Homo sapiens: one gene and its partners. The protein of the gene in region 6 purifies or fractionates together with the protein of the main gene of each other region. This does not show direct contact. Each region holds a gene or a part of one and is shown on either strand. Other genes may lie near its edges.

Region 1 (3,500 bases), on a different chromosome or scaffold from region 6:
GCCTCGAGTGGGTAGTAGATTGGCTTTTTAGACCCAAGAGTTAGATATTTTATAACCCTCCTTTGAGTAGTTACTGCTTCACTAGCCAAGGGAAGGTTACATGATCAGGAGTGTGGACTTGGGAGATAGTAGGATGAGCCCTTCTGTTCCTTCTGGAAGTGAATTATTTGAATTGGCTACAATTTTCTGAAGGATGCAATAAACAAGATCAATTTCCTTGATAGCTCTGATGTTCTCACTACAGCTCTGAGGGTTGGGGCCACTGTCTCCTCCCACTTAACCAAGGTCTTAGCCCATAGTGATAGGCCAAGGAGAGGCATGGTTCCTTATTTACCTGTCTCATTCATGTGGTCCTAATGTCTCCAGTGCAAAAGCCCTAACCTGTGGGAATCATGTGTTTTAACTTTGCAGTTGCAGCAGGAAATCGAAGACTGGAGTAAATTACATGCTGAGCTCAGTGAGCAAATCAAATCATTTGAGAAGTCTCAGAAAGATTTGGAAGTAGCTCTTACTCACAAGGATGATAATATTAATGTAAGTGCGTTCATGAATACAAGCTTAATTCTTGTGAATTATCAAATCTGTTGAATTAAATGGAAAGACTCTTAATGCCCTTTTACTTCTTTTCTAGGCTTTGACTAACTGCATTACACAGTTGAATCTGTTAGAGTGTGAATCTGAATCTGAGGGTCAAAATAAAGGTGGAAATGATTCAGATGAATTAGCAAATGGAGAAGTGGGAGGTAAGATCAGCCTCAAGGAGGATGGACCCCTTTTGCCTTCCTGTCTTTAAGTGCACCAGTGCTACTTTTCAGCTGGCTGCATTTCCTCTTAAGCTTTCGAGGTGTAAATACATTGGATTTGAATGTGTGTCTGTTTGCATTGGGCAGAGGTGGATTGCTAGGGTGAGGTGTAGCAGTAAGCATGCAGTGAACACTGACTTTGTTTTCACATTGAGACTAGAAGGGTGCACGGGAGCTGCACTGGTCATGTCTTACACCTCTAAGTATTGGACACATACAGTAGTAGAAACTTGTTTTTCAATTTCATGGAGATAACATTTTAAAACTTGTCATCTCAGTAGCTGTGTGGTTTTAAGGCCCACAACTGGTTTTAAGAGTACTGAGGTGGTTGGAGGCATAAACTGACTAAGGCCATGAAAGAAAACCACAACTGGTTTTGAGAGTACTGAGGTGGTTGGATCCATAAACTAAGGCCATGAGAGTGGAGGCTATAGTGTTGCAGTGTTTACTGATGAGGAAAATGTTTCTAGATGCCCTCTCTCAAGTTGGATATTGCTTGTGTAGTGGGTGTTTTAAACCACACCTGGTAGTAGATTCTGGAGGAGAATAGGAGGGAATCTTTCTGAATAAGACACTAAGCCCAGATGGAAGAAAGAGCTTTATCTCACATGTTTCTTCTTGCTCAATAATGGCATGTATAACATGTTTATTGTACAAATGGGAATTCACTTTTTCAGTCTTAAGTTTGCAGTTCTCTTAAAAGTCAGTCTAATCCTTTTCTGTTTTTGTTTGTTCTTTAAATGTTTGAACATGACAATTGTTTAGTTTTGGGTAAATCAAGAAAATATAGATTTAAAAAGCAAGGGAAGAAAAAGCAATGAAAGAAAGCCTTTTGTTTTTTAGGTGACCGGAATGAGAAGATGAAAAATCAAATTAAGCAGATGATGGATGTCTCTCGGGTATAATCGTTTTTAGAGTCCCATAATTGCCTGTGAATACTTTTACTATGCCTCACTTTTATGAATACTTGTCTCTTCTGCAATTTTTAGACACAGACTGCAATATCGGTAGTTGAAGAGGATCTAAAGCTTTTACAGCTTAAGCTAAGAGCCTCCGTGTCCACTAAATGTAACCTGGAAGGTAGGTTGCTTCTTGAGAAGAAATTGCTATATATTGGAAAGATACAAAATTGCATTAGAAAGATAAAGAGCGGCTTCCTGCTTTCATACTTCTCATTTCTCTCAGCACCAGCCCCCAACCAAGTTCTCAAGTTCTTGTGCACACATATGGAACTCAAATGTTTTATCCTTTACAGACCAGGTAAAGAAATTGGAAGATGACCGCAACTCACTACAAGCTGCCAAAGCTGGACTGGAAGATGAATGCAAAACCTTGAGGCAGAAAGTGGAGATTCTGAATGAGCTCTATCAGCAGAAGGAGATGGCTTTGCAAAAGTAAGATTATCATCATTTACTGTTAACTGTATTGTCATGTCAGTAAATAAATGTGTACTAATATAGATAATGTTATCGTTTTTCAGGATTGTACTCTTTTGCATCTGTAATTAGTATAAATTTGTCTTTCTTTCTTTCTGCTTTGTTTCTCATAAGCTGCATTTTTCTTTCCTTTCTAACCAGTAGTCAAAAACTGTTGCCTGTAACTCACTTAAGGGGGAGCAGTGTACTGGTACTGACGGTCGCTGCTGTGGGAGTGCTTCTCTTTTGAAGATCTGGCCATGCCTTGTCTGTGGCTCCGCCACTTGTTTCACTTTCCTTTCTTTGTGGTCAATTATGTAATTTCCTTTAAACAGTCTGAGGGATTTGTATGACGTGTTTTAGTAGAATAAAAACTTCAAAAAAGGAAAATTTACTTATTGAAGGTACATTTAGTTTTGGACTTCACAGAGTAAAATATTCAAACTAAACATAATTGTGGCAAAGATATTAGGAGTTTTGAATGTAGAACTATTTGGTGTGTATATTTAGATAATAATCCTCTGAAATACATATCTCAAATTTCGAGCGAGGTACCTTTTGAGAGGTATATTTTTATAGTTCAAGTTTTTTGTCCACAAAAACATCTGAATTCTCTAAAAATAGGTTATCTGTGGCAGTTGCTATTTGTGTTTGCTCTTATGTTTTACTCTTTGGTGTATATGGCAGTGTGTGAGGAGGCCTCTCTTGCTAAGCAAATTTAACTTTTTTAAATGCTTAGACTGCTACTGCTGTATGCCATTAAATATTGAAACCATACCATTAACTTTTTCTCTAATTCTTTGCTCACCAGGCAGCCAGTTTAGATTTTCCAGGTTTTGTTCAGGCCAGCTCTAAATAAATGCCTGTCCTGCTTCAGAGAGACATTCCTCATTTCATTACTTTTTAAAAAAGAGCACTTCTCTGCCTCCAATAGTAATGTGAATTACGTAAATGGCAACTGTTTTTCTTCGTGATACAGTTAACCCATTGATGTGGCAGTGTTTTATTCAACTTCCCCAAAATTCATTCAGTCTCCATGTGTGGTTTGTACTCTACTGTCCACCCCTAAAGTCACTGTGTTAATTCAGGCCCTTGTCATCTTTTATGCCAGTCCCCTAGCTAATCACGTATCTCCAGACTTTCTTTCCCTTTTTTTTTTTTTTTTTTTTTTTTGAGACAGAGTCTCACTCTGCCGCCCAGGCTGGAGTGCAGTGGCGTGGTCTCAGCTTACTGCAAGCTCCGCCTCCCAGGTTCATGCCATTCTCCTGCCTCAGTCTCCCGA
Region 2 (3,500 bases), on a different chromosome or scaffold from region 6:
ACCATGGCTCACGCCTGTAATCTCAGCACTTTGGGAGGTCAAGGCAGGAGGATTTCCTGAGGTCGGGAGTTCGAGACCAGCCTGACCAACATGGAGAAACCCCGTCTCTACTAAAAATACAAAGTTAGCCGGGAGTGGTGGGGCATGCTTGTAATCCCAGCTACTCAGGAGGCTGAGGCAGGAGAATCGCTTGAACCCGGGAGGCAGAGGCTGCGGTGAGCCAAGATTGCGCCATTGCATTCCAGCCTGGCCAACAAGAGCAAAACTCCATCTCAAATAAATAAATAAATAAATAAATAAAATTCAAATTAGGAGGCCTGGCGTGGTGGCTCATGCCTGTAATCCCAGCACTTTGGGAGGCCAAGGCGGGTGGATCACTTGAGGTCAGGAGTTCGAGACCAGCCTGGCCAACATGGTGAAACCCCATCTCTACTAAAAATACAAAAATTAGCCAGGCGTAGTGGCAGGTGCCTGTAATCCCAGATACTGGGGAGGCTGAGACAGGAGAATCATCTGAAGCTAGGAGGCAGAGGTTGCAGTGAGCTGAGGTCATCACCACTGCACTCCAGCCTGGGCAACAAAGTGAGACTCTGTCTCAAAAAAAAAAAAAAAAAAATTCAAATATCTGCCTGTCACACCTGCAGGTTGAAGTAGTCTGGACTGCTTACTGAAGCAGATAAGGCTCTTTATGGTCTGAATCTGACCTGCCTCCCAGCCTGGTCTCTGGCCCATTTCCCCTTCACCCGCTTCTGTGCTTTGAAAGTAATAGCAGTGACTGACAGTTTTGAGCTCTCACTGTGTACCACACGCTGTTTGTGTTTTTGTTTGTTTGTTTTTGAGACAGAGTTTCACTTTTGTCACCTAGCCTGGAGTACAATGGCGCAATCTCAGCTCAATGCAACCTCCGCCTCCTGGGTTCAAACAATTCTCTTGCCTCAGCCTCCCAAGTAACTGGGATTACAGGTGCTTGCCACCATGCCTGGCTAATTTTTGTAATTTTAGTAGAGATGGGGTTTCACCATGTTGGCCAGGCAGGTCTTGAACTCCTGACCTCAGGTGATCCACCAGCCTTGGCCTCCCAAAGTGCTGAGATTATAGGCGTGAGCCACCACGCCAGGCCACACACTGTTTTAAACACTTGACATGTATTAATTCATTTGATCTTCCCCATAATACTAAGTATTGTGATCCCTATTTTTCAGATGAGATCATGAGGCACAGAAAAGTTAAGTAACTTGTCCCAGGTCACACAGCTAGGACAATTCTATCTTCCATGCTGAATTCCTTCACCTCATCTGGGGGTCACGTCTTCTCTCTCTGGGTCTTGGAGTGTGCTTTTTCATCCACTTAGCCATCTGCCTCCCTCCTTCTCTCCCTCCCTCCCACCCTTTCCCTGGCGAATTTATCCTTCAGGTCTCAGCTTAGTCATCATCTCCTCCAAGAAGATGTCCCCATATTCCTTGGGAGAAATTTAGGTCCCTTGGCTATGTGCTGCCCCCGCTGGTGTTTCTGCCATCATATTCCTTATCTCCTTGAATTATAACCATCCTGATTACTCATCTGTCTTCCTACCTAGATTCTGAGCTCGTTGAAGCCAGATTTACACCTGGTTTGTTCATTCCTCCTTCAAGGCTAACACAGGGCCTGGTATGAAGCAAGCACTTGATAAACATTTGTTGGATTCAATGGATGAATTGTCCCTCGGATGTGTGCACAGATCTGTGAGTGTGTGAGATAAGTATGCATGGGTCTCCTCTGAGGGCCCTGCCCCCCAGGGTCGCAGTCAGGAGGAAAAGCCCCCTTCGGCACCCTGTGCTTCGATGGTTCTTAAAGATGTCCCCTCTATAGGCCGGGCACAGTGGCTCTTGCCTGTAATCCCAGCACTTTGGGAGGCTGAGGCAGGTGGATCACAAAGTCAGGAGATCGAGACCATCCTGGCTAACGCGGTGAAATCCCATCTCTACTAAAAATACAAAAAATTAGCTGGGCATGGTGGCGGGCGTCTGTAGTCCCAGCTACTTGAGAGGCTGAGGCAGGAGAATGGCGTGAACCTGGGAGGCAGAGCTTGCAGTGAGCTGAGATCACGCCACTGACCTCCAGTCTGGGCGACAGAGCAAGACTCTGTCTCAAAAAAAAAAAAAAAAAAAAAGATGTCCAGTGTATGCAGTATGGCCCCTGCCCTTCCAGCAGCACCCTCAAACTCCTCACCCTGATAGTGGATCCTGAAGCCACCGCCCCTTGGGACCCGTGGGCTCTGGAAGTGCAGAAGCAGCCGGTTGGTTGGGCTCCGAAGGACTTGTCCTTCTCCAAGCATGGATGAGTTGGCCAGGAGTCGGGGGGCCAGGCCTGGGGATCCCCCACCAGCCAGCACCAGGAGCTCCTCTTCCTGTGACAGGTTCAGCGTCTGCACCTAGAGAAGCCAGACACAGACCCGCCAGGGCAAGTCAGCCAGGTGTTTGACTTCCAAAGCCCCTGTCCTGTGCCTTTGCCCTGTGTGTAGCAGCCCAAAAGGCACCACGCTGCTGCCCAAGTTGTAGAAATCTAGAAGAGTTTTTGAGGTCACCTGAGTCATCAGACAGGTTCTTTGGCTCCCAGGCCAAACCCGTGCACACCCACAGCCCAGAGGAAAAGGCTTGGAAGCTGCACAGTCACATGCTTTGGTCCAGTTACCTGGATCTCAATGCCGTAGCCAGGGTAGACATGGATGCTGTAAGTGCAGTCCAGGAGCCCCAGGGTGCGGCTGACGGGGCTCCCCAGATCTGGAGACTCCACATACCCTTCGCCCTCGGAGATGTTGTTATTACACAGAACTGAGGAGATACAAATGGCTGGGATGGAAGGAATGCCTGTGCTTTTGCCCTCCCAGCCAAGCAACTCTGGCCTTCATCTCCCTTCTCCTTAGCACTTCTCATCATCTTTTTGTTTTGTTTGAGACAGGGTCTCGCTCTGTCACCCAGGCTGGAGTGCAGTGGTGCAATCATGGCTCACTGCAGTCTCAAATTCCTGGGCTCAAGTGATCCTCCCTCCTCAGCCTCCCGAGTAGCTGGGCCCACAGGTGCACATCACCATGGTGAGACAATTTTTAAAACTTTTTGTAGAAATGGGGTCTTGCCACATTTCCCAGGCTGGACTCAAACTCCTGGCCTCAAGCGATCCTCCTGCCTTGGCCTCCCAAATCACTGGGATTACAGCTGTGCGCTGCTGTGCCCCCCTCACCATCTTTTATTTTTTTATTTTTATTTTTTTAAGATGGAGTTTTGCTCTTGTTGCCTAGGCTAGAGTGCAATGGCTGGATCTCAGCTCACCACAACCTCCACCTCCCGGGTTCAAGCAATTCTCCTGCCTCAGCCTTCTGAGTAGCTGGGATTACAGGCATGCGCCACCACGCCTGGCTAATTTTGTATTTTTAGTAGAGACAGGGTTTCTCCATGTTGCTCAGGCTGGTCTCGAACTCCCGACCTCAGGTGATCTGCCCGCCTGGCCTCCCAAAGTGCTGGGAT
Region 3 (3,500 bases), on a different chromosome or scaffold from region 6:
CTGGCAGGAATTTGGTGCTTTATCCTACTGATGCTTACAGTCATTTATCAAGCAGGACTCTGCCAGAGATTGTGGCTTCCCTAACAGAGGGTGTGGAAACCACCCTTTTTTTAAGCTCCCGGTCTTTAATGCCACAGCCGTTAGGCGACGGCATTACTATACCGTTGCCCTCCTTGGGGGAGGTCTCACAGCCTCCAGAGGAGGTTTGGGCCACAAGTGCAGACAGATACACTGATGTGACCACTGTGTTGAGTCAAAGCCTAGAAGAAACCATCTCTCCAAGAACATACCCCACTGTGACTGCATCGCACGCAGCCCTTGCATTCAGCAGGACACATTCTCCATTGCTTTCAACTCCTCTTGCATTTGCGTCCTCTGCTTCACCAACTGATGTTTCATCTAACCCCTTTCTCCCTAGCGACTCCAGCAAAACATCCGAATTGCATAGCAATTCAGCCCTCCCCGGTCCTGTGGACAACACTCATATCCTGAGCCCGGTGTCCTCATTCAGACCATACACTTGGTGTGCGGCCTGCACTGTGCCTTCACCTCAGCAAGTTCTGGCCACGAGCCTCATGGAGAAAGACGTGGGATCAGGGGATGGTGCCGAGACTCTGTGCATGACCGTGCTGGAAGAAAGCAGCATCTCTCTAATGAGTAGCGTCGTAGCAGACTTCTCTGAATTTGAGGAAGATCCTCAAGTATTTAATACGCTTTTCCCCTCCAGACCTATCGTCCCACTTTCTTCTAGATCCATGGAAATCTCAGAGACGAGTGTTGGCATTTCTGCCGAGGTGGATATGAGTAGTGTTACAACCACACAGGTTCCCCCTGCCCACGGCCGCCTCTCTGTGCCGGCGTCACTTGATCCTACTGCTGGCTCCTTGTCTGTTGCTGAAACCCAAGTGACGCCATCCAGCGTGACCACTGCATTTTTCTCGGTCATCACCAGCATTCTCCTTGACTCATCTTTCTCTGTCATAGCAAACAAAAACACACCGTCGCTTGCCGTCAGAGACCCGAGTGTTTTTACGCCTTATAGTCTGGTTCCTTCAGTGGAGTCTTCACTTTTCTCTGACCAAGAACGTTCCAGTTTTTCTGAGCATAAACCCAGAGGTGCTTTGGATTTTGCATCCAGCTTTTTCTCAACACCCCCGCTGGAACTCAGCGGCTCCATCTCTTCGCCTTCGGAAGCACCTGCGTCTCTGTCTCTGATGCCGAGTGACTTGTCCCCCTTCACATCTCAGTCTTTTTCTCCCTTGGTTGAGACATTTACATTGTTTGACTCTAGTGATCTGCAGTCATCTCAGCTGTCTCTTCCCAGTTCCACAAATCTTGAGTTTTCGCAGCTCCAGCCAAGTTCCGAGCTGCCTTTAAACACCATCATGTTGCTACCTAGCCGTTCTGAGGTGTCACCATGGTCAAGCTTCCCTTCTGATTCTCTCGAGTTTGTTGAAGCGTCTACGGTTTCACTGACGGATTCAGAAGCTCATTTTACCTCAGCTTTCATTGAAACTACCTCCTATCTTGAGTCTTCACTCATTTCCCATGAATCCGCAGTCACTGCACTGGTGCCCCCCGGCTCTGAGTCTTTTGACATTTTGACTGCCGGGATTCAAGCAACATCACCATTGACCACTGTCCACACAACGCCCATTTTAACTGAGTCTTCTTTGTTCTCAACTCTGACACCTCCTGACGACCAAATCAGTGCTCTAGACGGTCACGTGTCTGTCCTGGCCTCTTTCTCCAAAGCCATTCCCACTGGTACGGTGTTGATCACTGACGCGTACCTGCCATCAGGATCCTCGTTTGTTTCTGAAGCAACCCCCTTCCCTCTGCCCACAGAGCTGACCGTCGTGGGCCCATCACTCACACCCACAGAGGTGCCACTGAACACCTCCACGGAAGTGAGCACAACCAGCACCGGTGCTGCCACTGGTGGTCCCCTCGACTCCACCCTGATGGGTGACGCCGCAAGTCAGAGCCCCCCAGAGAGTAGTGCTGCTCCTCCCCTGCCATCCCTGCGTCCCGTGACTGCCTTCACTCTCGAAGCAACAGTCGACACACCAACACTGGCTACTGCCAAGCCGCCATATGTTTGTGATATCACAGTCCCCGATGCCTATCTGATCACAACTGGTAAGGCCCAGCTTCCTGCCGCCTCTCTGGGGTGGGCAATCTTTCTAAGGAGCTTGTGTGCAGTGCCTGTGAGGCTTGGAGCTTCATGGTTAAGAGCAGAGGCGCTGGGCTCAGTTAACTCCCAGGTAGTACTCCTATGCTTACCTCCTGCGAGTTCTCAGAACAGTTATTTATCCTCTCTAATCGTCTGCTGCCTCACCCATTAAACAAGGAGCTTAGTTAAACCTGCTTCATTGGGCTGTTGTTCAGATGTAAATGCGTTAGTCCCTGCAGAACGCTCAGCCCTTGCCTAGTACATCAGAGGCATGCACGGGATGGTGCATATTAGTCAGCAGTCACAAGGAGAATAAATATTAGAACAAATACAAGAACTAAACAAGCCTTGGAAGTTCTTGGTAGGATCTTTGTCCTACCATAACCCAGTAGGTGCATGGATGACATAGTTTAAACAAAATACTTTTTTGTTTAATTCAAGCAATGAGTTGGGCAACTATGTAAGGGCAACCCTTGCAATTTCTTACTCATTTACTCTTCTTACTTTTCCTTGAAAGGAGACTGCACTTTGCTCTCATAGGTCCCTGTAAATGCCCCTTGGGTCCCGAGGAAAGAAAAGTAAAGTGACTCTTTGCTCTTATAGGTCCCTGTAAATGCTCCTTGGGTCCCGAGGAAAGAAAAGTAGTGACTAAATATCCTCTGAATCCAGTATCAGCCTTTGGTCTCCTCCCCACCACAGCCTGGGTTGCTAGCAGACTGGCCAGCAGCTTCCCTTGCAGTTGCATGGCTGCTGTGGCCGCGTGAAGCTGGTGCCCACCTGAGGGCATGCCTGAGAGGTAGACTGATTTCAAGGGTCATGTCCCGCGACGGTGGCCCGCTTGGTCAGGGTCTCTGCATTTTTCCTCATGAGACATGACAGGTGTATGTGGTCTCGAGGGTCATGACTGTGTGCTGAACCACAGCCTGGTGGTGACGAGCAGCCTGTCCTCTGTTTTGATTTTGGTAGGAGTGGAGGACAGAAATGAAAAAGGGGACGAAAACGGCAGAAGAGGTAGGGAGGAGTGGGGTGGAGTGGACCGGGAAGGAGAGGAGCAGAGAATGTGGAAGGGGGAGAAGGAGGAGAACACGCTGGGTCTTTTCCTCTCTGTGGTCGGGGTTGCTGGGAGCCTCTGCTCACTGTGACAGTGCCACATCCCTCTGGGCAGGTGGGAGCGAGGATCCTGATGGCAGGTACACGTCAGTGATCAACACCCTACCTGTGGGAATGGCTTTGGAGAATGAGTCCAGGACAGCCTTTGCTCCCCACACGCCAAAGGGAAACATTCGTTATTCCACATGGCAAGTAATGATTGAGCACCTAGTAT
Region 4 (3,500 bases), on a different chromosome or scaffold from region 6:
CTTTACAATGTTTTACAAACAATAAAAAATAAGGCCATATGTTTTGGCAAATATTAAGGAACTAAGATAGCATCTACAAATGGATTAATAAATGGAACAGTAGCAGCAAAGAAAAAGAACAAAACATAACCATACATGACAATGCAGGTGCATCTCACAAGCATACTGTTGGATGAAAAAAACAGACACAAAATAAAACATCCTGCATGTCTCCATTAATATGAAGTCCAAAACAAGTAACACAGTCTATGATATTAGGAGTCAAGACTGTGGTTATCTTTATCTTTGGGGAAGGCAGGAGCAGTGGTGCTGAAGGGAGGCTGGTAATGTTCTGTTTCTCTTTTTTTTTTTCTTTTTTTTTTGAGACGGAGTCTCACTCTGTCAACCAGGCTGGAATGCAGTACTGTGATCTCAGCTCACTGCAGCCTCTGCCTCCTGGGCTCAAGCAATTTTCATGCCTCAGCCTCCCGAGTAGCTGCGACTACAAGCACCCACCACCATCCCCAGCTAGTTTTTGTATTTTTAGTAGAGACAGGGTTTCGCCATGTTGGCCAGGCTGGTCTCGAACTCCTGGCCTCAAGAGATCCACCCGCACAGGCTTCCCAAACTCCTGGGTTTACAGGCATAAGCCAGTGCTCTGTTTCTTGATCAGAGTGGTTACCCAGGGTGTTCACTTTGTGAAAATTCATCACCCTGTACACTCATGACTTATGCATATCTTTGTGTAAATATTAAGTGAAAAATGTGCGTTAAAAGTTATAAGTAAAGTGTATGGTATGTGAATTATATTTCAGTAACACTTGTTTTAAAGTATCTATAATAGGCCAGGCACGGTGGCTCACACCTGTAATCTGAGCACTCTGGGAGGCCAAGGCAGGCAGATCACTTGAGGTTAGGAGTGCAAGACCAGCCTGGCCAACAGGGCGAAACCCTGTCTCTACTAAAAAATACAAAAATTAGCCAGGTGTGGTGGTGCGCACCTATAATCCCAGCTACTAGAAAGGCTGAGGCAGGAGAATCGTTTTAACCCAGGAGGCAGAGGTTGCAGTGAACTGAGATTATGCCATTGCACTCCAGTCTGGGTGACAGAGCGAGACTCCGTCTCAGTCAATCAAACAATAAAGTATCTATAATAGACCGGGCACAGTGGCTCACACCTGTAAAATCCCAGCACTTTGGGAGGCCGAGGCGGGTGGATCACTTGAGGCCAGGAGATCGAGACCAGCCTGGCCAATAAGGCGAAACCCTGTCTCTACTAAAAATACAAAAATTAGCTGGGCACACGCCTGTAATCCCAACTACTCTGGAGGCTGAGGCACGCAAATCACTTGAACCTAGGAGGCGGAGGCTGAAGTGAACTGAGATCATGCCACTGCACTCCAGCCTGGGCAACAGAGTGAGACTCTGCCTCAAAAAAAAGGAAAAAAAGGCTGGGTGCGGTGGCTCACGCCTGTAATCCCAGCACTTTGGGAGGCCGAGGTGGGTGGATCACGAGGTCAGGAGATCGAGACCATCCTGGCTAACACGGTGAAACCCCGTCTCTATTAAAAATACAAAAAATTAGCCGGGTATGGTGGCGGGCGCCTGTAGTCCCAGCTACTCGGGAGGCTGAGGCAGGAGAATGGCGTGAACCCGGGAGGTGGAGGTTGCAGTGAGCCAAGATCGCACCACTGCACCCCAGCCTGGGCGACAGAGCAAGACTCAAAAAAAAAAAAAAAAGGGAAAAAAAAAGTATCTATAATAATTAAAATTACCTATTCATGTTAAACTTCATACTGATTGGGAAGTATTTAACAGGATCATAACAGTTCATTAGAAGAGAAGTTTTACAACTCAAAGTCAGTCTTGAATCCTTCACTTAAGGATTATAGCAGATCAGAACCCACAGAAGGCACAGACCCCCAGCAATAGAATATCTTCTTCCTCAGCACATTACTTCCACATACCTGTCTGATTAAAAATGAAGATTTTCAGTGTTTCCAGTGTTCGATCTGTATGATTAAATCTGGCCATTGGTTTAGCTCCTTGAAATAATAAAATATTAGGAACAGCTACGGTGCCAAACCTGGTAGAAAGGCTACAAGAGAAAGAAGTCAAAAAACCTGAATTTATTATTAATAGAGGGCTTTCTCATACAATTACCATCTCAGAATAGACAGAAATAAATGAGGAAGTTGCGTGTGACCTACGGAGATTTCTGATACTTGAAACTTTTGGCTTTTTCATTTGTTTCTGACCTCTTTGCTTATGGGTCATGGCTGGGGGGCACTCCTTTTCTGCAATCTGAGTTGCTTTCAATTATAATATGGATCTACCAATGGCACAATTATTCCACTAGTTAAGTTCCTGTCTAAACAAACCAGACCAGAAAACTCTAATTCATGGACAAAGCACACTGTGTCAACTTATTTGACAGAAAAAATTTCCAACTCTTCAGAATGCCCATCCCTGTCCCTCAAAAAAGATCAACTTACAGTAGGCAATTGGTTTGGTAAGCTGGCACAAGGGAGTATATGATCTAACAAACACACCAGGATGTTCACAATTAGGGCAGGATGACTTGTTTAGAAGGAATATAACTGTGCGGGCTTATTTCACCTTTACATAATACAGACTAGTGGTGATAAGCTCCCAAGTCAAAACACTCTGGGTTGAAGCCTCAGTTCTGCCACTGAACCAATGTGAACTCTGGGCAGATTATTTAACCTTGCTAAGCCTCAATTTTCCGCATTAGTAAAATAGTAATAGTGTATAACCAGGATTTTTTTCTTTTGTACACATGCTGTAACTTAAATATTAACATAAGAAGCAAACATGTCCCAGCCCATATAATAACAGCAAGAGCCTTAGTCTCCATAATTAAGATACAACATGGAGCTGAAGGAAGGAAAGAAGAAAGCAGGTTAGGGAGGGAGTTGCGGGAGAGGCAGGAGGGACAGTGTGAGACCCAGAACCAAAGAGCACTGAGTATGCCTGGGGGCAGTGGAGGCCCCACCAAAGCTGGACACTGACGTGATCTGTCCTTCCAATCAGTCTGCTCCCTTGGGCCCAGTCACTTAGATATAACCCAGAAGCCTATATGAAAATTACTAATTTGTTGAGCCATTTCTTTCTTCATAAAAGTTTCAGGTAAACATTGGCAGTTATATTCCCACAATGAAAATCAGTGGAATACAATTTTTTTTTTTTTGAGACAGGGTCTCACTCTGTAGCCCAGGCTGGAGTGCAGTGACAGGATCACGGCTCACTGTGACCTTGACCTCCCCTGGTTCAGGCAATCTTCCCACCTCAGCCTCCCAAGTAGCTGGGGTACCACAGGTATGTGCCACCATCCTCAGTCAATTTTTTGTATTTTTTTTTATAGAGATGGAGTTCTGCCATGTTGTCCAGGCTGGTCTCAAACTCTTGGGCTCAAGCAATCCTTCTACCTTGGCCTCTCAAAGTGATGGGATTACAGGTGTGAGCCACTGCACCTGGCCTCAAGTACAGAGTAATGGAAG
Region 5 (3,500 bases), on a different chromosome or scaffold from region 6:
TAAAGAATTCAAAAATTCCAAAAGAAGCCAGACATCCATCTTGTTTTTCATGATTTTTCATCCCCTTTGAATATAAAAATTAGCACCAGGACAGAAGACTCTGAATTACCTTTTTTCCCCCCATCTGATCTGGTCTGTGCTTAGATTTTTTGTTGTCACTTTGGCTCTGATGTGATTATTCGCTGTATGAGTGTTGTTAGGCAGTCTGTCCTCTAGGGGGCGCCCCGTTACTGCCAAAACATTTTTTATTAGCGATCATTTTAACCCAGCTGCCCTGAACGCACATAAGGCAGCCCCATGAAGAGAGTAGCTCTTTTACCTGGAGCTCAGGGTACAATGGGAGGAATTGGAATATCTCAGCACCCTGAAAGTGTGAAATGTTCAAAAGATTGGATATATTTAAATTCATAGTTCTAATTTCAGTTTAACAATTTGAGAATGTTTAATTAATTTGCTGTGGGTGGTGAAAATTAGAGAGTCCTACTTTCTAAATAATCCAAGGTGTTGCATAAATTGGTATCTCAGAGGAATAAACTAGCATTTCATTTCAAATTTCAAGTCTTTATCAAGGATTTTACAATTTAAAGTTACACATTTGTTATAGGAAAATTAAATGCTTCACTTTTGTTTTGTTTTGTTTTGTTTTGTAATGCAGAAAAATATGATCCATTATTCATGCACCCTGATCTGTCTTGTGGAACACACACTAGTAGCTGTGGGCACATTATGCATGCCCATTGTTGGCAAAGGTAATGTATATTCTTAATATTTGTCAAGAGAAGTTTATCTAAGGGCTCAATATTTTTTAAATAGAGGAAATTTCATTCTAGAAAAAAGGAAAAGAACTAAAAATGTTGAAAAAATCCGTATCATTGCCTAATAAATAACAAAAGTTATTTGCCTTGTCATAGATGTAAAGTGTATGTCAGATATGTTTTTTAATTTAGCTTTATATCCAAGTCTCTTCTATATCTTCCAAAGAAGGAAGTGGATCTGTATCAGTCTGTGGATGAAGAAAAGGGTTTTTACAGTAGGATAAACTCTAGAAGGGTAATGTTGTCTTTCTTTGGGTCCAGGGTGGACAACTTTTGATTCCATAGATGTTAGTACTTGCTTTGTTACTTCCCAAAATTGTAATGGCTCCCTGTGATGAGATGTCCTGAATTTGTTCTACCTTGGTGTTTCCTATGCTTCTACAAAACCAACAAATCAATAATACTATTATTCTAGAACTATGCTCACCCAGTTATCATGAACTACCCCTAACAACTAGCCACCACATTGTAGTCCCAGCTACTTGGGAGGCTGAGACAGGAGAATTGCTTGAATGTGGGAGGTGGAGGTTGCAGTGAACCAAGATTGTGCAACTGCACTCCAGCCTGGGCGACAGAGCAAGACTCCATCTCAAAAACAACAACAACAACAAAAAAAAAACAAATAGCCACCAGCCTTGGGGAAGTGGCAAGAGAACAATGACACCAAGAAATTTTTGTTGCTGCTTTGTGAATGCTTTTTTACATGGCAGTCTTTTTTTTTATTTTACTCTTTTAGAACTTTTAATCCATTTGGATTTTTAAAATCACTCAAAAATCATGTTAAAAATAATTTAGTTTAAGATTTTCATTTTTGAACTATTTGTGGAAACAAATTATTTTAAATGTTGAAGCTTATGGCTGTCATTTATGTAAATTACCATTGTTTTGATACCTCATGTTCTCTAATTGTAAAGGTATTTTGATTCCGTTCAAGCTAAAGAACAGCGAAGGCAACAGAGATTACGCTTACATACGAGCTATGATGTAGAAAACGGAGAATTCCTTTGCCCCCTTTGTGAATGCTTGAGTAATACTGTTATTCCTCTGCTGCTTCCTCCAAGAAATATTTTTAACAAGTAAGTTTTGGCTCATGACAACTATTACAAAGCAATAGTTTGCTTTGAAGATAATGAAATAATAAATCAAGGAGGAAAACTTAGTCTAGGCAATTGCATAGTGTTTTCCAGATACTTTCCAAACTCTAATCATTTTCTTCTAGCAGACCTGTGGAATGTGATTTTAGTTTTTAGAGAGGAACAGGTGAAAATTTAACAGTTTCTAAGCTATTAAATTCCTATGTATTTATGAAAACCAAGTATCTGGTTTATTTCTAGGGACCCTACTTTTAATATCTTCCATACACTTTTCAAGAGATGCTCAGTAAACTGGTAGAGGGAGATGGAACAACTCAAACTGACTTTATAGGACAGTCTAAAAATCGAATAAAACTTTTTGCTGTACTGGCCATTCATAGTTTTAAGAACCAGGCAAAAAAGTGAAAATCTGTTGGTATATTTTAAATGGAAAAATCTCAGCTGGGCGTTGTGGCTCACATCTATAATCCTAGCACTTTGAGAGGCCAAGATGAAAGGATCATTTGAGCCCAGGAGTTCAAGACCAGCCTGGGCAACATAGTGAGACCCTGTCTGTACAAAAAATAAAAAGTTAGCTGGATGTAGCGGCATATTCCTATAGTCCCAGCTACTTCAGAGACTCAGGTGGGAGGCTCGCTTGGGTCAAGGCTGCAGTGAGCTTTGATCATGCCATTGCACTTCAGCCTGAGTGACAGAGCAAGACCCTGTCTCAAAAATAAAATAAGTGCTTGCTTCAGCAGCACATATACTAAAATTGGAACGATAAAGAGAAGATAAGCATGGCTCTTTCACAAGGATGACACACAAATTCATGAAGTGTTCCATATTTTTAGCTCTTTTAGAATTTGTCTAGCAGACTAAAAAAAAATAAGAAAAGAAAATGGAAAATTTCTGTAACTTCACAGTTTTTTGGATGCTTTTAGTTACGAGTATTGGACATACTCATTTCGAGTATGAATTTGATAATGTCTGCTTTTCGAATCTGAACTTCATTTCTCAATGTAGAATTATGCTATCTACGTTGCATGCACAAATACTAAGTTATGTGAGTATAAACGATCCATTTCTGTGTTATTTGGATTCAGTTCAAAGCAAAGTCAGTTTTTTCTTGTCAGTTTTAGGAGTTCAAACTTTGGTGTTCTTAGTCTATGCTACCACAAAATGTTCTTAAAATATTAGTAGATTTGAGTGTAAGCTCATGCTTTTTAATTATAAAAGAATATCGTGGTACTGACTTATCTGCATTTGAACTGATGAAGAAATTAATTATTGTTAGATGGAGGATTAACTGTGTATAAGAAGAAATCACCCTTGTTGGATTTCATCTGTCACTTTATTGGTCCAATTTTTGGGTTTTGCCCATGAGATTCAATTATGGTTTAGTCATATTCGAATACAATCATAAAAAGAACACAGGCTTTGGAATCTGACAGAGCCAAGTTTGAATGCTAGCTTTGTCCCTTATTCGGCCTTAGTCAAGTTACATAGCTCTAAACCTCAGTTTCCTCATCTGTAAAATGGGGACAATAATAAAACCTATTACAAAATATAGGAATACAACCTATGCAAATAATAATACAACCTGAAACAA
Region 6 (3,500 bases):
TATGACACAGTCCAGAGCACCCCAGCTAGGATCAGGTGCCTCTTGTGTGTTCTCACCTCCCAGAGTTACCTCTACCTTGGCCCTTACCTAGTGTGACTTGTATCTCTGTGTTCTGTGTTCCCATCAGACCAGAGCTCTTGGAGTTAGGGTGTGGCATGGTCACTAACATGTTTCTTCCATCTGGGAGATCCAAAGAGTGAGGATGAGGACCAGAAATTCCTAGCTCCCCTCTCACCCCTACACATGGCAATAATGTAAAAAATATTCAGGCCACCCCTCAGCCTCCGACCAGTGCCTTAGGCCCATTAACTTATAACAATAATCTTCCCAGGCTGGACAATCTCCTTCATCCTTCTAGCCCCTGATGAACACCAGGCACAAATCCATGGGACCTGAATCTTAACTACAGGCAGTCGGGGCAGCCTCAAGTCTAGGCTGAGGTCCCTTAATGGGCACGTGAAGGGGGCTGCTCCCTCCCATGCCTATATCCTTCACTGCTCTCCACAGACGTGCACCTCCTCCGGGGCTCTTTTCCCCAGGCAGGACAGGCAACTCCCAACCCAGGTGTAGCGCCTGGCTGGCCGGCAGCCCACCTGTGGCTACCCTCTGCCCATGGCCTACTGGCCTCTGGCACTGTCTGAACTCAGGCATCCCCAGTGCTGCCCGTGTCGCTCAGTGGGCATCCCTACCCTGGCCTCTTCCTGCATGTCTCCCGTGGAAATTTACCCTGGAGCAGAGAGTGTCTGGGGCAGGCAGGGAGGCATGGCCCTCAGACTCACACAGGCCTCACCCTGTCATTAGAGGGCAGGTTTTCCCTCCCAAACCAGATGTACAGACCTGGATTCTGGGTCAGTGTCCACCTCACTGGCTCTGATCTTCCACCACTATAGCCTCTACAGTCACAATAGGACCACCTGTACTCCTTGGTCTCAGCCTGTCCTTCTGTCTCCTCTGCAACCCCTTGGTGACCAGAGCCGGCCAGTGTGAAGTCTCTCATCTCGCCGTTCACATGGTGTCTTTGACCCATGCATCCCAGCAGGCAGGCCTTGCTGCCTGGGCGAGGGAAGGTGGTGGCTCAGGGGCATCTTCAGGGGTGGTTTCTGATCTGGGCAGCTCTGGAACCCATATCCCCATGTCCTTGTTCATCTAGGCCCTGAGTGCATAGAGTCTGTGGCTGAACCAGGCCTGGGAATGAACTAGTGTCTCCTCTTTCCAAGAAGGTTTGTCTGGGTCACCTGCTCTGAATAGCTCTGGGAATGAGAGTCATGTCTTTGCTAAAAGCAGCAACCCAAAGGAAGGGAAAACAACACCCATGGCTCTTCCGAGGCCTCCGAGGTGTTTCGATCAGATACGACCTACTGTGAAACACCACTCAATGGGGAAGAAATATGTGAATGTTTTTTCTGCTCACTGGAGCTCATTAGATTAAGCAGAATTGAAGATAGGCATGTTGAGCTTATTGCTCTTCCATCCCAGCATCAGTGGGTTTGGAATGTTCCCAGACATCTTCAATGCTTCTCTCTCCAAGTGGTAAAACTGAAGATAAGAATTTTATTTTATTTTATTTTAAGCCTTTGAAAAATTAATCCTAAAGTAATATCTGTTTTTTAAAGACAATTTGGAAAATATAGAAAAGTAAGGGGGAGGCAGAGACAACAGAGTTCAGCCATAGTCTCATCACCCCAGCACAAGAGAACCCAACCATAGTCTCACCACTCCAGCACAACAAATGTGCAATAGGAAAACAATTTGTAATTTCCATGATCATGAACTTTGAGGTGAATTTTTAATTCCTGTTCTTCCTAACGGAATCTACGCATTTAGTTGTCTATTTGTCTGTCCTCGAACTTTTTCCCCAAAGGACTCCATGTGAGCTAAGCTAATTTGGAACACATGAAAAAATAGCAAAAGAAAATGGTGAGGGATACATGGGAATGACCCCAAGAAGCCCAGTTATCAACCTGTTCCCATGGGCAGCAATGATGATACTTGGGTTGAATATTCAGTATTAGGACTCTAGGCTCATCTACTTGTAGACTATTCTGGCTTCCATACCCAGAGAGCAACTGGGAAATAGAGTCGTTGCAAAAGGTGTCTAGTGGACTTCATTAGGGAAGCCACAGCCCAGTGGGTGTGGCCGGTACGATATCATGCCGCTGCCTCCACAGGGAGAGCTCCCAGGGAGGTGGTGTGGCCATTGCTTCCAAAGCCTCCATCACCTGCCCATACACGCCAGCTCATTGTATTGGCCTTACTCTTCCAAGAGGCCATGGAAGTATAAATAATAAAGCAAGAAAGGCAGATGCATTTGGCTGGCTCAGTGGACTTCTGAATGTACTGTGAGTATGAGACCTTCCCTTCCAAAAGATCCGGTGCTTCTTGTCTATTCCACACGAAGCTTGCTTCAGATCGAGGGAGGATGTAGCACTGTCCACAGGTGGGTGTATGAAAGGAAAATTCTAGAGGATCTCCAAAATCCAGGTAAACCCCTCTTGAAGAATTTGTTGAACATCTTTGGCAGAGTGTTATGGATGTCTACTGCCCAGTGCTTTTCTAGAGAGAGAAGCTTCATGAATGTGGGGATGGGAGAAGTCTTGGGACATAAGTGGTGCCTCCAATTTGGGTCCACCCCTGCTGCATGATGCTGGCCACAGTCATCCTTGTGTGTGAGCTGTTTGTGAATCTTTATCTCTCTCTGAGGATAGAGGCTGGATCCATCAACTCACTGGTTCATGGAGAAAGTGAGGCGAAGCAGCCTGTTCAATGCATTTCTGCAGAATTGCCTTCACCACTGATGCACACTGCAACCACAATCTCTTCCTTTGTCCACTCTGGGCCTCATTTCCCTCTTTATGGCACAGATAGTCCTGAAGTCAATGATCTCTCAGCCTTTCCAACCCACATACCCCTCCTCCTAGAATGCAGTCACGGAAGGGGAGGAGGACCAGGTCAGGCAAACAGCTGGAAGGTTCTTGAGGGTTTGGAGAAGGCTGTGGGGCTTGTTGGGCTGAGAGTCAGTCTGCAGCATCAATATGGACCATTTCCTGGGCATTGCTCTAGTGCCCCAGTGCCTGACACAGAGTGAGGACTCAAACATATTTCTTAAGGAATGAAGGCAGAAATCTACAGGGCAAATTAACAAGTGGAATGGGGACATGTTCTCCACTCTTTGTTTTCCAGAAAGGAGGAGAAAGTATATTGCTGTGGTCATCAGAGTTTGTTTATGGGGCTTCTCTTACTTCTAACAGGGGAGAGAAGATATGTCTTACCACCACTTAGTTCTAAATGTGCTTTTAAAAATAATAATTTAATTTCTGATGTATATAGAGTGATTTCTTCTTAAAGCAATATCAGTCCTTTAAAACAGGTGAGCCACAGAGCAGGCCTGAAGTGGCTCTTCAAGTGCAGGGCTCTTGTGAGGGTCTTCTGTTGGGAGGCCAAGGCACACCTTTAGCAAGGATTCCTCAGATTTCTCAGCCCAAAGAAGGGCACCGGGTTTA
Region 7 (3,500 bases), on a different chromosome or scaffold from region 6:
TACATTAAAATTTTAGTGATCGGCTGGGCGCGGTGGCTCACGCCTGTAATCCCAGCACTTTGGGAGGCCGAGGCGAGCGGATCACAAGGTCAGGAGATCGAGACCATCCTGGCTAACACGGTGAAACCCTGTCTCTACTAAAAAATACAAAAAATTAGCCGGGCGTGGTGGCGGGCGCCTGTAGTCCCAGCTACTCGGGAGGCTGAGGCAGGAGAATGGCATGAACCCGGGAGGCGGAGCTTGCAGTGAGCCGAGATCGCGCCACTGCACTCCAGCCTGGGCGACAAAGTGAGACTCCGTCTCAAAAAAAAAAAAAAAAAAATTTTAGTGATCATGGTAAGATAAACATTAATATATGAATGAATATTACTGCTTTTAAATTGTTTTTACCCAGTGCACAAAACGAAAATATTTTAAATACTTTTGTAGTTAAAATGCTTTAAATTTTAGGGAATATTCTTTAACAGTTTTCAGTAATTTTAATCATCTACTTTTCTGTTTTATAGTAAAATATTTTTACATGTGTCTAGGTCAAAAAAAAAAAAAATCTCAAGTGACCATGGCATGTTTTAGGTTCATGTATGTAGTTGAATTGTTTATATATTTGTCTGTATTACGTTCCAGAAACTGTTCAGGTTCCATTATCAAAACGAGCAAAATTTGTTGGACCTGGTGGCTATAACTTAAAAAAACTTCAGGCTGAAACAGGTAAGAGTTGTATGAAGTTTGGGGTTTTTTAATTAAATGCTAGACCATAAAAGTTTGCTATTTCATCTCTAGTATGTTGCTTTAAATATATATTTATTTGAGAAATGAGAGAAAGACCAGGAGAAAAGGATATGACGTGTCTTGACTGTGAGTTTTCTGTGTGCCTATTAATAAATTAGCAAATGGTCATTCTTAACTAAATTCAAGAAGGATTACAAAGAATTCATCAGGACTTTTTTGCAACATTTTATAGTTGAACATCTAGAATAATTTTTAGTTTTTAACTTTAGAGGAATTATTACTTAGTTATTTCTTTTTATTCTGCTACTTTCACTTAGTTTTATTTTAACTCTTTTATTTAAAGAGTATATAAAAAAAAGCTTTAATTTATTTTTCCTGAAGCAATGTTTGAATTACCTCGTACTTCAAGGTTTGAGGTTACTGCAAGAGAGTGAGAAGCACTGTCACCTTAGCCATTTGCTAACACTGAGAAACTGATGTGATTTTGTCCCTTATTCATTTATTCACCCCTCGTAAGAGTAAGCGGGAGAAAGAAAAAAAGTAAGGAAAGGGTTCTATTATAGTTTCTACTCGTAATTAAGAGAGCAGAACCAGACTCTCCAAAATTTGTATAGATATATTTGATTTCACTAGATGGTGAATTTCAAGAAATCAAGCATATTGGCTCACCATTGTATCCCCAGGGCCTACCTAGTATAATGCCAGGTACCTAGCAAGTATGCAGAGTGTATTTGTTGATGAATGAATTCCTTCATTCCTAAAGTAATGATTAAATACAGCATAACTCCACCCAGCTACTAATAGGTCCCTCCTATTCTCACATCTATTTTTAAGACGAGTTTCCACTGGAATGAGCAAGTTAACTTTTTTTTTTTTTGAGATGGGGCCTTGCTCTGTCACCCAGACTGGAGTGCAGTACACAATCACAGCTAACTCCAGCCTTGACCCCTGGGATCAAGTGATCCTCCCGACTGTGAGTCCCAAGTAGGTGGGCACATGCTACCAGGTCCAGCTAATTTTTGAATTTATTTTTTGTAGTAACAGGCTCTCCCTATGTTGCCCAGGCTGGCCTTGAACTCCTGAGCTCAAGTGATCCTCCCACCTCAGCCCCCCAGAGTGCTGGGATTACAGATGTGACCCACTATGCCCAGCCAAGTTAACTTTAATATGTTACATTTTGTTTTTAAAAGGTGTAACTATTAGTCAGGTGGATGAAGAAACGTTTTCTGTATTTGCACCAACACCCAGTGCTATGCATGAGGCAAGAGACTTCATTACTGAAATCTGCAAGGATGATGTAAGTATAGATCATATTAATTACGTATCATATAGCTATATTTGTTTTTTCTACTTTTTGTTGATGTTTTCTTTATGAATCTTATGGCTTATTTTGCACTTACAGCAGGAGCAGCAATTAGAATTTGGAGCAGTATATACCGCCACAATAACTGAAATCAGGTAATATCAAGTAATATACTATGCTGAGCATTTTCCTTTCTTTAGAGACAGGGTCTCACCCTGCCACCCACAGTGGGATACAGTGGTGCCATTGTACCTCACAGCTGCCTTGAACTCCTGGGATCAGGCAGTTCTCCCACCTCAGCCTCCTATTTAGGACTACAAGCACACACCACCACACGTGGCTGATTTTTTAATTTTTTTGTAAAGACATGGTCTCACTATGTTGCCCAGGTTGGTCTTAAACTCCTGGCCTCAAGCCATCCTCCTGCCTCAGCCTCCCAAAGTGCCAGGATTACAGGCATGAGCCACCGTGCCCAGCCCTGTTTTGGTTTTTAACAGATTCCTATTATAATCCCAATTTAATTTTACATTTACTTTGAAATCATAAGGTGTTTAGATTACATGCCAATTGCCATATAATCATTATTTTTTAAGGTATAGTATATTTTGTTTTCTATATCATTTTATAAAATTAAAGTAGCAGTTCTGTGGTTCTAATTATGATAGGTTCTCTTAACTGAATTCTTTTTTTTTTTTTTTTTTTTTTTTGGGACAGAGTCTCGCTCTGTCACCCAGGCTGGAGTGCAGTGGTGCGATCTCAGCTCACTGCAAGCTCTGCCTCCCGGGTTCACGCCATTCTGCCTCATCCTCCCCGGTAGCTGGGACTGCAGGTGCCCGCCACCACGCCTAGCTAATTATTTTTTGTATTTTTAGTAGAGACGGGGTTTTACCTTGTTAGCCAGGATGGTCTCGATCTCCTGACCTTGTGATCCGCCCCCCTCGGCCTCCCAAAGTACTGGGATTACAGGCTTGAGCCACCGCGCCCGGCCAACTGAATTCTTTAACCAAATTTTCTACTAGTAATTGGTGAAACCCCAAATTAATTTTCCCAGTAAATATTAAATAGGCCCAAAATAGACTTAGCAATATTTCTTTATTTCTTTTTTTTTCTTTTGATGGCTTATTTTAAACATATCTGAATGCTTAATTGGCACATATTTTTAAATCCAATTTCGGCTGTGCATGGTGGCTCACGCCTGTAATCCCAGCTCTTTGGGAGGCCAAGGCAGGTGGATCAGGAAGTGGGGGGTTCGAGAGCAGCCTGACCAACATGGTGAAACCCCATGTCTACTAAAAATACAAAAGTTAGCCAGGCATGGTGGTGCATGCCTGTAATCCCAGCTACTCAGGAGGCTGAGGCAGGAGAATCGCTTGAAGCCGGGAGGCAGAGGTTGCAGTGAGATGAGATCGCACCACTGCACTCCAGCCTGGGCGACAGAGCGAGACTCCATCTCAAAAAAAAAAAAAGC

The links.
Region 1: the proteins of SERPINA12 (region 6) and MIA3 purify together in Homo sapiens (co-immunoprecipitation; 3 studies listed by BioGRID and IntAct, with this or other methods). This does not show direct contact.
Region 2: the proteins of SERPINA12 (region 6) and SEZ6L2 purify together in Homo sapiens (affinity purification with mass spectrometry; 2 studies listed by BioGRID and IntAct, with this or other methods). This does not show direct contact.
Region 3: the proteins of SERPINA12 (region 6) and KIAA1549 purify together in Homo sapiens (affinity purification with mass spectrometry; 2 studies listed by BioGRID and IntAct, with this or other methods). This does not show direct contact.
Region 4: the proteins of SERPINA12 (region 6) and TXNDC15 purify together in Homo sapiens (co-immunoprecipitation; 3 studies listed by BioGRID and IntAct, with this or other methods). This does not show direct contact.
Region 5: the proteins of SERPINA12 (region 6) and UBR2 purify together in Homo sapiens (co-immunoprecipitation; one large-scale study listed by IntAct). This does not show direct contact.
Region 7: the proteins of SERPINA12 (region 6) and PNPT1 purify together in Homo sapiens (co-immunoprecipitation; 3 studies listed by BioGRID and IntAct, with this or other methods). This does not show direct contact.

The regions. Positions count from the first base shown.
Region 1 is NC_000001.11:222,652,597-222,656,096, forward strand, and holds part of MIA3 (transport and Golgi organization protein 1 homolog isoform 1 precursor), read left to right. Parts: intron 1-411; coding exon 412-534; intron 535-631; coding exon 632-743; intron 744-1,646; coding exon 1,647-1,702; intron 1,703-1,792; coding exon 1,793-1,883; intron 1,884-2,058; coding exon 2,059-2,197; intron 2,198-3,500.
Region 2 is NC_000016.10:29,893,051-29,896,550, forward strand, and holds part of SEZ6L2 (seizure 6-like protein 2 isoform 5 precursor), read right to left. Parts: intron 2,811-3,500; coding exon 2,671-2,810; intron 2,411-2,670; coding exon 2,209-2,410; intron 1-2,208. UniProt on the Homo sapiens protein: May contribute to specialized endoplasmic reticulum functions in neurons.
Region 3 is NC_000007.14:138,915,390-138,918,889, reverse strand, and holds part of KIAA1549 (UPF0606 protein KIAA1549), read left to right. Parts: coding exon 1-2,142; intron 2,143-3,500. UniProt on the Homo sapiens protein: May play a role in photoreceptor function.
Region 4 is NC_000005.10:134,894,871-134,898,370, reverse strand, and holds part of TXNDC15 (thioredoxin domain-containing protein 15 isoform 1 precursor), read right to left. Parts: intron 2,078-3,500; coding exon 1,947-2,077; intron 1-1,946. UniProt on the Homo sapiens protein: Acts as a positive regulator of ciliary hedgehog signaling. Involved in ciliogenesis.
Region 5 is NC_000006.12:42,661,529-42,665,028, forward strand, and holds part of UBR2 (E3 ubiquitin-protein ligase UBR2), read left to right. Parts: intron 1-655; coding exon 656-749; intron 750-1,729; coding exon 1,730-1,891; intron 1,892-3,500. UniProt on the Homo sapiens protein: E3 ubiquitin-protein ligase which is a component of the N-end rule pathway.
Region 6 is NC_000014.9:94,502,970-94,506,469, reverse strand, and holds part of SERPINA12 (serpin A12 precursor), read left to right. Parts: intron 1-2,247; exon of another isoform or gene 2,248-2,437; intron 2,438-3,500. UniProt on the Homo sapiens protein: Adipokine that modulates insulin action by specifically inhibiting its target protease KLK7 in white adipose tissues.
Region 7 is NC_000002.12:55,641,845-55,645,344, reverse strand, and holds part of PNPT1 (polyribonucleotide nucleotidyltransferase 1, mitochondrial precursor), read left to right. Parts: intron 1-624; coding exon 625-708; intron 709-1,919; coding exon 1,920-2,026; intron 2,027-2,131; coding exon 2,132-2,187; intron 2,188-3,500. UniProt on the Homo sapiens protein: RNA-binding protein implicated in numerous RNA metabolic processes. Catalyzes the phosphorolysis of single-stranded polyribonucleotides processively in the 3'-to-5' direction. Mitochondrial intermembrane factor with RNA-processing exoribonulease activity.